Regions from separate parts of the Homo sapiens genome. Here region 1 is linked to region 2. Evidence: fine-mapped expression QTL. A gene starts in region 2. The other region holds a variant in brackets. All regions are shown on one strand. Distances are between the middles of the regions. Region 1 overlaps MLXIP (MLX interacting protein). Region 2 holds the start of MLXIP (MLX interacting protein).

Region 1 (5,364 bases), 50 kb before region 2:
GGGGTCTTCTGAGCTCAGTGTGCCCAGCATTTGCTGGAATCAAGACTCAAACAGGGCCAGGCACGGTGGCTCATGCCTGTAATCCCAGCACTTTGGGAGGCCGAGGTAGGCAGATCATGAGGTCAAGAGATCAAGACCATCCTGGCTAACATGGTGAAACTCCATCTCTACTAAAAATACAAAAATTAGCTGGGTGTAGTGGCACATGCCTGTAGTCCCAGCTACTCAGGAGGCTGAGGCAGGAGAATGGCTTGAACCCAGGAGGCAGGGGTTGCAGTGAGCTAAGATCGCACCACTGCACTCCAGCCTGATGACAGAGCGAGATTCCCGTCTCAAAAAAAAAAAAAAAAAAAAAAAAAAAAAGGTGCCAACCACAACCACCATGCCTGGTTGGTGCCACCAGTGGTCCCAACTACACAGGAGGCTGAAGCGGAAGGATCGCTTAAGTCCAGGAGGGAGGTTGAGGGTGCAGTGAGCCGTGTTCTTGCCACTGCACTCCAGCGTGGGCTACAGAGCAAGGCTCTGTCTCAAAATAACAAAGACTAAAACAGGCTGGGTGTGATGGCTTACACCTGTAATCCCAGCACTTTGGGAAGCAGAGGCAGGAGGATCACCTGGGCAACATAGCAGACCCCCGTCTTTACAAAAAAATGAAGAAATGAACTGGGTGTGGTGGTGTGTGCCTGTAGTCCCAGGTACTCAGGAGGCTGAGGTGGGAGGATCGCTTGAGCCCAGGAGTTCAGGGCTGCAGTGAACCATGATTGAACCACTGCACTCTAGCCTGGGTGACAGTGCAAGACCCTGTCTCTAAAAAAAAAAAAAAAAAAAAAAAAAGACTCAAACAAATCAAGGACTAAACCCCTAAACCCCACATGGCCCAGGGGGATGCCATGGACAGAGGGTATTACCCTGAGACACCTTTTTTTCTGTAGAAAGGGGGCTCTGGTTGGAACCACACATGTTGGCAACTATCCTGGGCTCTGAAACACTCCCAGGCCTGACGTTTCTGCTGCTGTCACAATGGCAGGTGCTCAAGGACCCATCTAACTGCAGGGCCTTGGTAGGGAGCTGGCTGTGTCATCAGTGCCCTCTGCTGCTTCGAGGGAGAACTGCTTACAGTCACGGCTAAATCCAGAGCCAATTTCCTTGCTGAACAATGTCCCAGAAAAACTTCCCAGACCTTGCAGTTACTACAAAAAACAGTTCAGTTTAAAAAAAAATTCTTTGCTCGCCCCCTTGCCCATTCTACCAAGTCTCGCCTCTTAAAGGAAGGCAGCGATCTGCTCTGTGCTGGGCTGGGGGAGATGGAGGCAACCGTGCTCTCTCTGCCTCTGGTCCTCACCCTGGAAAGGCTCAAAGGTGTCCATGAAGTCCAGGTTAGGCTGCAAAGGAATCAGTCCCGGCTGGATCATGTCTGCATTTCCCAGATGTGCTGCAAGAATCACAGAGAGAGGAACCATTTTGTCTTCTCAGACAATGTTGCAGGAACGTAAAAAAGGCCTGGAACAGAACTTCCTGGCCCTGCTCACATCCCAGAGTCTTCCAAGGAGCTGGCTGGGATTTCTACCTTCTCAGGGTTTGTGGCCATTCCGCACCCTCAAAAGGCAGGAAAGTAAGTTTTTGCCAGGAAGGTAAAATTGAGTATCAGGGAATGGACACCCCAGGAAGCTGTAAAGAGCTCAAGAGAGAACAGAGACCTCCCCGAACACTGTTCTAATTTTCAATCTTTGGGCTCTTCCCTGAGAGGTTAACTGGAAGACTGAATGCCACCAAGGTGAGCGGTCACACCCGGGAGTGCTTCTGATTTTCTTTAGCATGAGTCACGGCCCGGCCGCCTCGGCTTAGGCACGGCACACGTACCCCGTGAAGAGAACGGTATCTGAAATGTGCCAATGACTCAGACTAGACCCTGCTGCTGTCCTCCCACCATGGCACTACGGGAATGGCAGCTGCCCAGTGGGCCCACTCTGCAGACCCCACCCACTCGGTACGTGCGGCCTGGATGTCAAATGAGGCCAGCCATCCTTCCCTTCCTTACTGCCTGCCCCCAACCGTGACGTGCAGCAGCTCAGAGATGGCCCTGAAGGAACCCTGGCCCAGAGGGGGCCTGGCAGAGAAGGAAGCGGCTGGCTGTTCAAAGCCCAAGGCCCTGGTTTGGGTTACCTATTTCCCGGGGATTGGGCCAGGCCACCGGCTGGTGTGAAGAAAGTGTGGAGAAGAGGGTGTCGCTGAATTCCGACATGAGCATGTCTGTGTCCAGCAGGGGATCCTCCTCCATGGGGACGGGGGTCTTCCATCCATCCCCGTGCTTGTGCCAATACAGCATGTCATCGTCCTAACACAACACCAACACAGGGGAGGAAGCATCAAAGAGTAACAGTGGGACGAAGAATTCCCACGCCTGTCACCTGGGGAAATTCGTCAAAGGGGTGCTCAGTGGAAGTGAGGCAGCAGGGTGGAGGCATTTGGAGAGCGGCTCCCTCCAGCCCACCCAGGAGAGAGAGCTGGACTGCTTCTTGAGCCATTCCTGAGACTCCAGGGAGGGCCCATGGCCTGCCGCCTTTTGCAGGGCTCCCTGGTGGGCCACCGAAGTCCCTGCTGTCTCATGTCAAAGTGGGGGTCCTCAGAGCTCCCAGGCTCACCCACCTGGACCAGGCTGGAGAGGTCCTCATCCTTGTGCTGCTGTAGCTGTGGGCAAAGGGACAGGACACGGCGGTCACCAATGGCCCTAGGAGGGCCCAAGGGCTCTAGAATATACAGAACTCTCAGGGAGGCAGGTAGGGGTCCTGCTCACACCATCCCCAGGCCGATGCCTGCACAAAGGAGACTTCCACCCAGTGCACAGATGGGGAAACTGAGAGCAAAGACAACCTGACCGAGGCAGGCCATTGCCCAGGCTAGTCTGGCACGCTGGGCCCCAGATTTACTGCTTGACGCTCCACGTTCAGGTGGGGCGGCTGTGGAGCCTACCGCCTCGGCCAGGGCCCTGAACCAGGGACTCTGCCCACTCCCTCCCTAGGCGGGCTGCCTGAACACTCCAGCCAGATACCCTTTTCTTGAAGTAGGTTCTCCACTTGTGATACTCCCGGATCACAATCTCGATGCGGCTCTTCCAGTACTTCCCTTCCGTGGTGATGGCCTAGGACAGGGACAGAGAGCAGAGTGAAGAGGGGGCTCTGCTTGATTAGCAAAGCTCAACTGGTGTACTGAGTATCCGGCACTA[T/C]AATCAGGCCTTAGGCAATCCAGCGGGAAACCCCACAGTGGCTACCACATCACTCAGAAAGTACGTCCCACTTCTTCCATGCTATAGCAGACCCTCTAGCTAACAATGCGCTGTCATTTCAAGACCTAAGGTAGCCAAAGGCCTTGGGGGCACGGTCCTGAGGCTCTGTCCAGGAGGACAGGGTGAGAGCAGAATGCTCCACAGAGGAAGAAGCAGGGGAACGCTGCAGCAATTCCCAAGCCCCCCCATAAATGCCCCTTCCCCACAGCCTCTGCCACATTCAAAGGGCAAAAATGAACAGCCAATTCCAGGAAGTTTCAGGTGGAATGTGCCCTCCAGGGGCCTCTCATCCAACCTTCGCGTGATGCCAGTGTGGATGCCTTGCATGACAGCCTTCGAGCTCCAGAGATAAGGAGCCCCAATGCCTGGGGTTGCCTCACTTTCTGATCTCAAGGCCCAAATCACCTCACCTACAAACACTGTGTGTGTGTCCTCGACAGCAAAGATGCTTTTCTGTTAAAAAGAACTGATTACAATATTGCCATACCCAACAAAATGATATCCCTTGATACTGTCTAATACCAGATTATACCTGTCTCAAAACTGTCTTTCATTAGCTTACCTTCTAAATTCCCCCTTTATCGTTAACAGTGAGACATGCCTAGACAAAATTAAAGCCACACAGAAGAGTATGCAGTGAAGAAAGCATCTCCCCCTCATCTGGCAGCCCTAATCCTACTCCCCAGAGGTTCCTGAAGTCTCTTAATAAAGACACTTCTATATATTCCTCTAGACACTTCCTGTGCATGTATAATCACACATAGACACACACTTTAAAAATTAACAGAAAGATATTAACCCCCTCAGTCCCTGGGCCAGTCCCTCTGAGAAGGGGGAGGCTCTGCAGCCTGGGGTTGCCAGAGGCCACCAGCTCCCAGGCCTGGCCCCCAGGGCATGGATGGCGCAGGGCAGGCGCTGCACTACCCTCGGCAGCCTCTCCTACAGGACCAGCCCGCGGTGAGCCACTCCCGGTGAGGTGCTGGTATGTTTCCACTCTCAGCCACCCTTGGTCACTGCCAAGTACCTCCGGCCGGCGGTGCTCGTCTACGTCCACAGAGCCGTCCAGGGGTGTCACAAAGTGGCACACAGGATTCTTGCGCTTCTCCAGATCTGAGCAGAGAGAGGGTGAGAGTCAGCACCATGATCCAGACCCCTGAGGGAGCCCCAGCCTGTCTGCTGCACCCCTCCCCTAGGGCAGACCACATTCCCAGGTACCCTTTCCTTCTCCTTCCCTAGGAAAAGGAGATTTCAGGGAAATAAAGGAGTCCAGGTGAAAGGAGAGGAATCTGTCAATAACGAACGCCTCAGTCAGAGAGGCAGTGTGGCTTCTCAGAGAAAGACCAGCCCAACACAAGCCTGCCCTAGCACACTCATCTCCCGGAGAAGCTACCGGATCCATGACACTCGGGCTGGAGAGAGAAGGCCCATGCCTGAGTCTTCCTAGACCTGCTCCCTGACTCTTCAGATGCCACCCCTCTGCTGGGCCTGATGGCTTGGGTTTCCTGTCTGCACAGACTGAACTTCTGTTAGAAACACCAGGTCCCAGGAGCAGACTCTGGTCCCTGGGTGCCCAGGCCTCCAGGCCGTGAAGTTCTGACCACCACCGGCGCCCAGGCTGGGCGGCACTTACACTGCATGTACCAGGCCCGCCAGATGGCATTATTGAGCCGGATCTTGTCTCTCCACTGTAGCTTCAGGCCCTTGAAATTCTTCCACTTTGGAGACACCAACTTCCCACTGAAAGGCAAGGCAAAGCGGGGAGACTCAGTGGTTACTCTGAAATTGAAGTGAAATTACAAAGTGCCACCCGATCATTCCAGGACCAAACTCTTGACTGATCCACCCCCAGCCATACACCCGGCTTCATGGAATTCAGGTCACTGGGGGATTTCTTCAGAGCCACACAGGGCAGGGCATGGTGGGGATACTGTCAGGGCGCGGAGGGCAGGACTGGCCGTGGGGGTTTTGCAGCCTTGGAGCCACCCACCAATATCTGTTGAAGGGACTTTAACCCAAACACCTCTGCAGAGGGCTGCTGGGAGGATTCCATGAACCAGACTAACAAACTGAACACTGGGCAT
Region 2 (5,364 bases):
AGTTAGACAGCTAGAACGAAGAGGCCAGAGGACAGACAGGAAGTTGAAGTTAGAAAGAACCTAGGCCAGAAACAGTCACACAGAAGAGGAGACCCAGCTGGCCTTTCTCAGCTCGGGCAGGAGGGGAGGACCCAGACAGCCGGCAGGGAAGGCATGAACCCCACCAGGATGGAAGCCAGACAGGCTCTGAGGTTAAGTCTTCTTTCTGCCCTGCCCCCAATCCCTTTTTTTCTTTCTTTCTTTTTCTTTTTTAGAGATGGGGATCTTGCTACATTGCCCAGGCTGATCTTGAACTCCTGGGCTCAAGCAATCCCCCACCTCGGCCTCCCAAAGTGCTGGGACTACAGGCATGAGCCACCACGCCCCGCGTTGCCTCCGATCTCAACCTTCCTTCCCTGAAAGCCAGGTAGCAGTTCTCACTAGGAGAGCTGGGGTCAGAAACTCACCTTCCTCTAGTTTCTTTCTGTGCCACAGACTACAGCCCAGACAACTGGTTTTGAGTCATTTGTCTGTCATCCATACCAAAGTTCTACACTGCCAACTAAACTCAGCACTGGACAAACCAGCCTCACACAGACAGACAAAGGGCATCTTCATGAGAAATGACTGGACAGATCCCATCCGAGGGCCTGTGGTGGTAGACCTTAGGTGGCCGACCTTAGGCAGCAGGAGACCTTAGGCACAGGGAAAAGCAGCGAAAGTGAGAGAGCCAAGAGAGCAAGATAAGCTTCTTGCACCAAACTGATGGTGCATTTTGCAATCAAGAAAGTTAACTGAGCAACGGCCAGCTGCCAAAATATTTTTGAGAGAAATGAAAAAAAAAATGCCATTACTAAAATTATTTGGTGTTGTTTAATAAGCCTTTAGGTTATCCAAACAAGAGTGCAAAGGGGAGACTGATTTAGTTTTCATTTAGCAGAGCTTACTTAGGTGAGACCTTTCCAGTCCATGCCCCCCGTGACTCATCCATTCTCTCCCTGTATATGTAGAAGTTTATATTAAAATAAAGAAGAGGATTAAGTTTTCTTAATAAGATACATTCCAGTCTTTCACCTCGAGCTTTGTTTGAAAAGGCTCTCTCGAGGCATAGCATATGCTGCGATCCAGTCGGGTTTGATTCCAATGGAACTGCTCAAAATCAGAGACTGGAGGGCGCACAGGGCTGCAGCCTCAACACCATTTGTTTTTTAAAAAGCAGAACATCTTTACAGGCTCAGTGCCAGCTCAAACTGGCAAGACCAGAGAATCAGCAGAGACTGACCAATGTGCCGGGTAAGGGGGATGGGAGGAGGAGCTACGGGAACAGATCATCAGGGAAACCTTCAAGAGAGGAAATAGGGGTGTTTCAGGAACATAACAAAGAACAAGTTGACTAATCGTTTATTCCAGGGACCGCGGCGGTGAGGGGGGTGCCATCCAGGGCTAAGTATCTAATATTTTAACTTCAGGTAAAAGCATAACATTTAAACCTGGATATGCTTGGGGCTCACAGCTCTCTTAAAAAGGTGAGGTGAGAGGGGGCAAGATATTCCTGCTCTTTTATTACGCTGTTTATGGAGTCTCCTAGGAAACTTCTCCCGCGATGCCTCCAGAGCAGACCTAAGACAGCCCCCGCTAGTCCAGTTCCTAATGCAATAAGCTTAACTCAGCAGAGATCCCATCATGAGCTTTCTGCAGGGCCAAGCTGCTCAAGGCCGCTGCTGCCAGTCCAAAGAAGTTCTGTTGCGCAGACAAAAAAGTTACCTGCAGCAAATACCTAATATTCATAGTGGGAAAGGGAGAGAGAGTGAAAAAGCGCTTTAATCTTTGAGGGCCAGGCATTTTCTGTGACTTGGAAAAGAGGAATCTCTGCCCAGAGCCGAATCCACATGTCAGAACGGTGTCTGGGATGTCTGCCCTCAACAATGACATCTCCCTCATATAATGTTTCAGGACCGGCCAGAAAACCCTCCAACTTGCCAGAAGGACAGACTGCACCTCCAACAGCTGTGGCACCAAAAGTCTTCTTAGGAGGCACCCAAAGCCCTCCCGAGATGGGGGCGGGCCTCCCGATGAGGTTGTAAGGGGGCCAGCCTCCAGGTGCAGGGACACCTAACTCTGGCCAAGCACTGGAATAAGCAATTTACCTATCTCACTCCATCCCCACAACAGCCCCTTGGAGGCAGACACTACAGTCATTCCCCTTTTATAAAGGAGGAAACAGGCTCCGAGGTGTTACACAACCATTAAACAGCAGAGCCAGCCTCCAGTCACCCCGAACAGGTGGTCCTGACCGCTGCTGGATATGGGGGAAACACACAAAGCGTTTGGAGGAAGGAGTCGATAGAGTCGGGTAACACAAGATGCAGCCAGTGTTTATACCTCTTCCTCGTCCAACATCGGTGGTCCCAGGACACTGGAGGGGAGGGCCTGGATGGGGAACGTGAACCCGAAAGGACCCCGGCACTGCTGGCAGGGGAAGAGGCCAGGACCCCGGCTCCTCTGGCAACGCGGGGAACCCCAGATCCATAAACCCTCCCGAAGGAGGAAGACCCAAAGGGAATGCATGAAGCCACGGGGTTGCCAGGCGGCCCTTCCCTCCACGCTTGTTTTGTCAAACAAGGGCCTCCGGCCGGGGCCTCAGGGGGTCGCGGGGGTCCCTACCTGTAGGCCAAAGTCATGCACTCGAAGAGCTTGGTGAGCGAGGCGTCGATGGACAGGTGGCAGGAGCTAGTCTTGCCGAAGCTGTAGGTCTGGCACGTCTGTTTGTTGACCGTGTCGAAATCGTAGCCCTTCTTGGGCGGGTGCTCTCGGTGCGGCGACGACACCATGAAGTGGCCGCTGTGGATGATCTGCTGGCGGCGCGGAGGTTCCTCGCGGCCCGGCCCGGCCCGAGGCGGCGGTGGCGCGGCGCTCGCGTGGGCCCGGGCCGGGGTGGCCGCGCCGGAGGCGGGCGGCGGGGACGGCTCATCCGTGTCCGAGTCGTCGTCGTCCTCGGACACCTGGGGCTTGAGCAGCACCTGGCGGCCCCGGCTGCGAGGCCGGCGCGGGGAGCACATGAAGACGTCGGCGGCCATGAGAAGGGCTCGGCCGGGGGCATCCCCCGGAGCCCGGGGCAACGCGACAAGCGCGCGAGGCAGAGGGGCGCCGGCCCGGCCCGGCCCGCGCGCCGACTGTCCGCGAGCGCGCGGCGCGGCGGGAGGGGGAGGGCTCCGGCCCCGGCGTGACGTCACCGAGGCGTCTGGGCCAATCGGCTGCCCGCGTCGGCCTCTTAAAGGCGCAGGGGAACCTTTCCTTAGCTAGGCGGACCAAAAAAAAAAAAAAAGGGGAAGCGGAGGCCACGCCTCCCGGCCGTGCCCCTCGCCACCTCCTCCTCTCCCGGCGTCCGTGGGTGCTGAGGGACACGGTGGCCGGGCGGAGCGGCTCGCCGGTGTCGCGACCTGGGAGAGGCGTCGGCAGAGTGGGGCCGTGCTAGTCCCGCCCCCGCCCCGCTCCGCGCCCCGGGAGTCGCCCTGTGGCTTCGCCGCAGGCCCGGCCGGCTCCACGTGGTGGGTGCGGGTGGGGCTCCTCGGCCTCCAGGCCCTGCTTTTTCCCTGCCGGGCGGTACCGAGTCCTCGCAGCTCACGCCTGAGTTTGCCGGACGTGGTGGCTATTGTCCTCATTATTCTCATCGTATTGATGGGAACACTGGGTGGCTGAATACCGACAGGATTTTTCTCAGACCTGGAGTCCACAGAGCTGGGAACTTGCTTCCCCTGCGCGTCCCCAGCTCGGCGCAGCTGTTGAGTGGCAGCGCCCCTGAGCCCAGCGACCTCCAGACCCCAGCTCTTTTAACTTCAACTCAGCATGCTGTTGTTATTTTTTTAAAGTTTGACGGACGAGCCAGCCCCCGAAACAATTCTAAAAGGGGAGTATCTGAGCCAGAGTTTTCTTCTCTGTCAAATGGTGAACAATTCCGTTTCCTCAGAAACTTGGGACAGTTTAAAAATGGCTATAGTGGGGCGCGGTGGCTCATGCCTGTAATCCTAGCACTTTTGGAGGCCGAGGCGGGTGGATCACTTGAGGCCAGAAGTTCAAGACCAGCCAGGCCAACACGGTGAAACCCTGTCTCTACTAAAAATAACAAAAATTAGCCGGTCGTAGTGGTGCACCCCTGTAATCCCAGCTACTCGGGAGGCTGAGGCAGGAGAATCGCTTGAATCCGGGAGGTGGAGGTTGCAGTGAGCCGAGATTGCGCCATTGCACTCTAGCCTGGGCGACAGAGCGAGGCCCTGTCTCAAAAAGAAAAATAAATACAAATAAAAATGGCTATAAGTTGCTTAGCAGGCAGGCTGGCACAAAATGAGCGCTAAATAAATGTGCCACAGGTTGGAGGATTTGGATCAACCAGACCAGAGGTGCCTAGAAATTGCCAATAGTCCACCACTATTTGACCTGCAGAAACGGCAACTTCGCGTGGCACAACCTAACTGACAGACACCTCTAGAAAGCTGTCAAGGTTTCCGGGGCTCAAAGCCAGTCTGGGGTGGGGGTGGCAGGGCATCAGAAGAGCCAGTGAGGCCCATGAGCCAGGAACACCCATCCTAATCCTAGCAGGGCGTCCAGAGTCCACAGCCACTCCTGCACTCTGCTTTGTTTTATTGTTGTTTTGTTTTTTGAGACAGAGTCTTGCTCTGTCACCCAAGGCTGTAGCGCAGTGGTGCAATCACCATGTTGGCCAGGCCGGTCTGGAACTCCTGACCTCAAGTGAGGCCTGCCTTGGACTCCCAAAGTGCTGGGATGACAGGCATGAGCCACCGCGCTGGCTCTGCACTCGGCTTTGAAGCTGGTTTCAGTTCCAGATTTGAGTGGGGGGTGAGTCCCCTGCCCCACCCTCTTCCTGACAAAGGCCTCCTGAAGGGAACAGAGGGCTCTCACCAAAATGGCTCCATTAACTTATTTCCAAATGTCTGTATGGAAAAATGGGCTGGATGACTGGCAGTTTTCAGGCATGAGTTCTAGATTTCCCTCTTCAACCTACTACTGTTCCCAATGCTGGTTACAAGTGTTTAAAAGTCCATCCTTTGAGTTGCCTTCCTTTCTCTCAAGACTTGTCTCCTTGGTCCTTGGTAAGTTTACATGCCCAGCCACTTTTTTTTTTTTTTTTTTTTGAGACAGGATCTGGCTCTTTCACCTGGACTGGAGTGGAGTGGTGCCATCATGGCTCACAGCACCCTCAACCTCCAGGGCTCAGGTGATCCTCCCACCTCAACTTCCCAAGTAGCAGGACCACAGGTGCACACCACCGTGCCCTGCTAATTTTTGTACTTTTTATAGAGATGGGGTCTCGCCATGCTGCCCAGCCTGGTCTCGTCTCGAGTTCCTGACCTCAAGTGATCCTCCTGC

What was found. PIP is the estimated chance that this variant, and not a neighbour inherited with it, causes the effect.
Region 1: its variant is fine-mapped to the expression of MLXIP in fibroblasts (GTEx, PIP 0.98).

What each region holds. Positions count from the first base shown.
Region 1 is chr12:122,126,912-122,132,275 of GRCh38, reverse strand. MLXIP (MLX interacting protein) reads right to left here. Exons shown (of 17, transcript NM_014938.6): 2 at 4,914-5,020; 3 at 4,308-4,393; 4 at 3,050-3,139; 5 at 2,647-2,688; 6 at 2,164-2,335; 7 at 1,343-1,432. Among named protein-coding and RNA genes, the nearest start is that of IL31, 45 kb to the left of the region's middle. RefSeq lists enhancers at 1,590-2,789, 4,716-5,226, 5,227-5,364. The variant T/C (reference allele first, on the strand shown) is at 3,224.
Region 2 is chr12:122,076,546-122,081,909 of GRCh38, reverse strand. MLXIP (MLX interacting protein) reads right to left here and starts at 3,154. Exons shown (of 17, transcript NM_014938.6): 1 at 2,644-3,154. The coding sequence starts at 3,056. RefSeq lists enhancers at 535-584, 655-704, 2,572-2,811, 4,879-4,928 and silencers at 2,872-3,321, 3,332-3,611.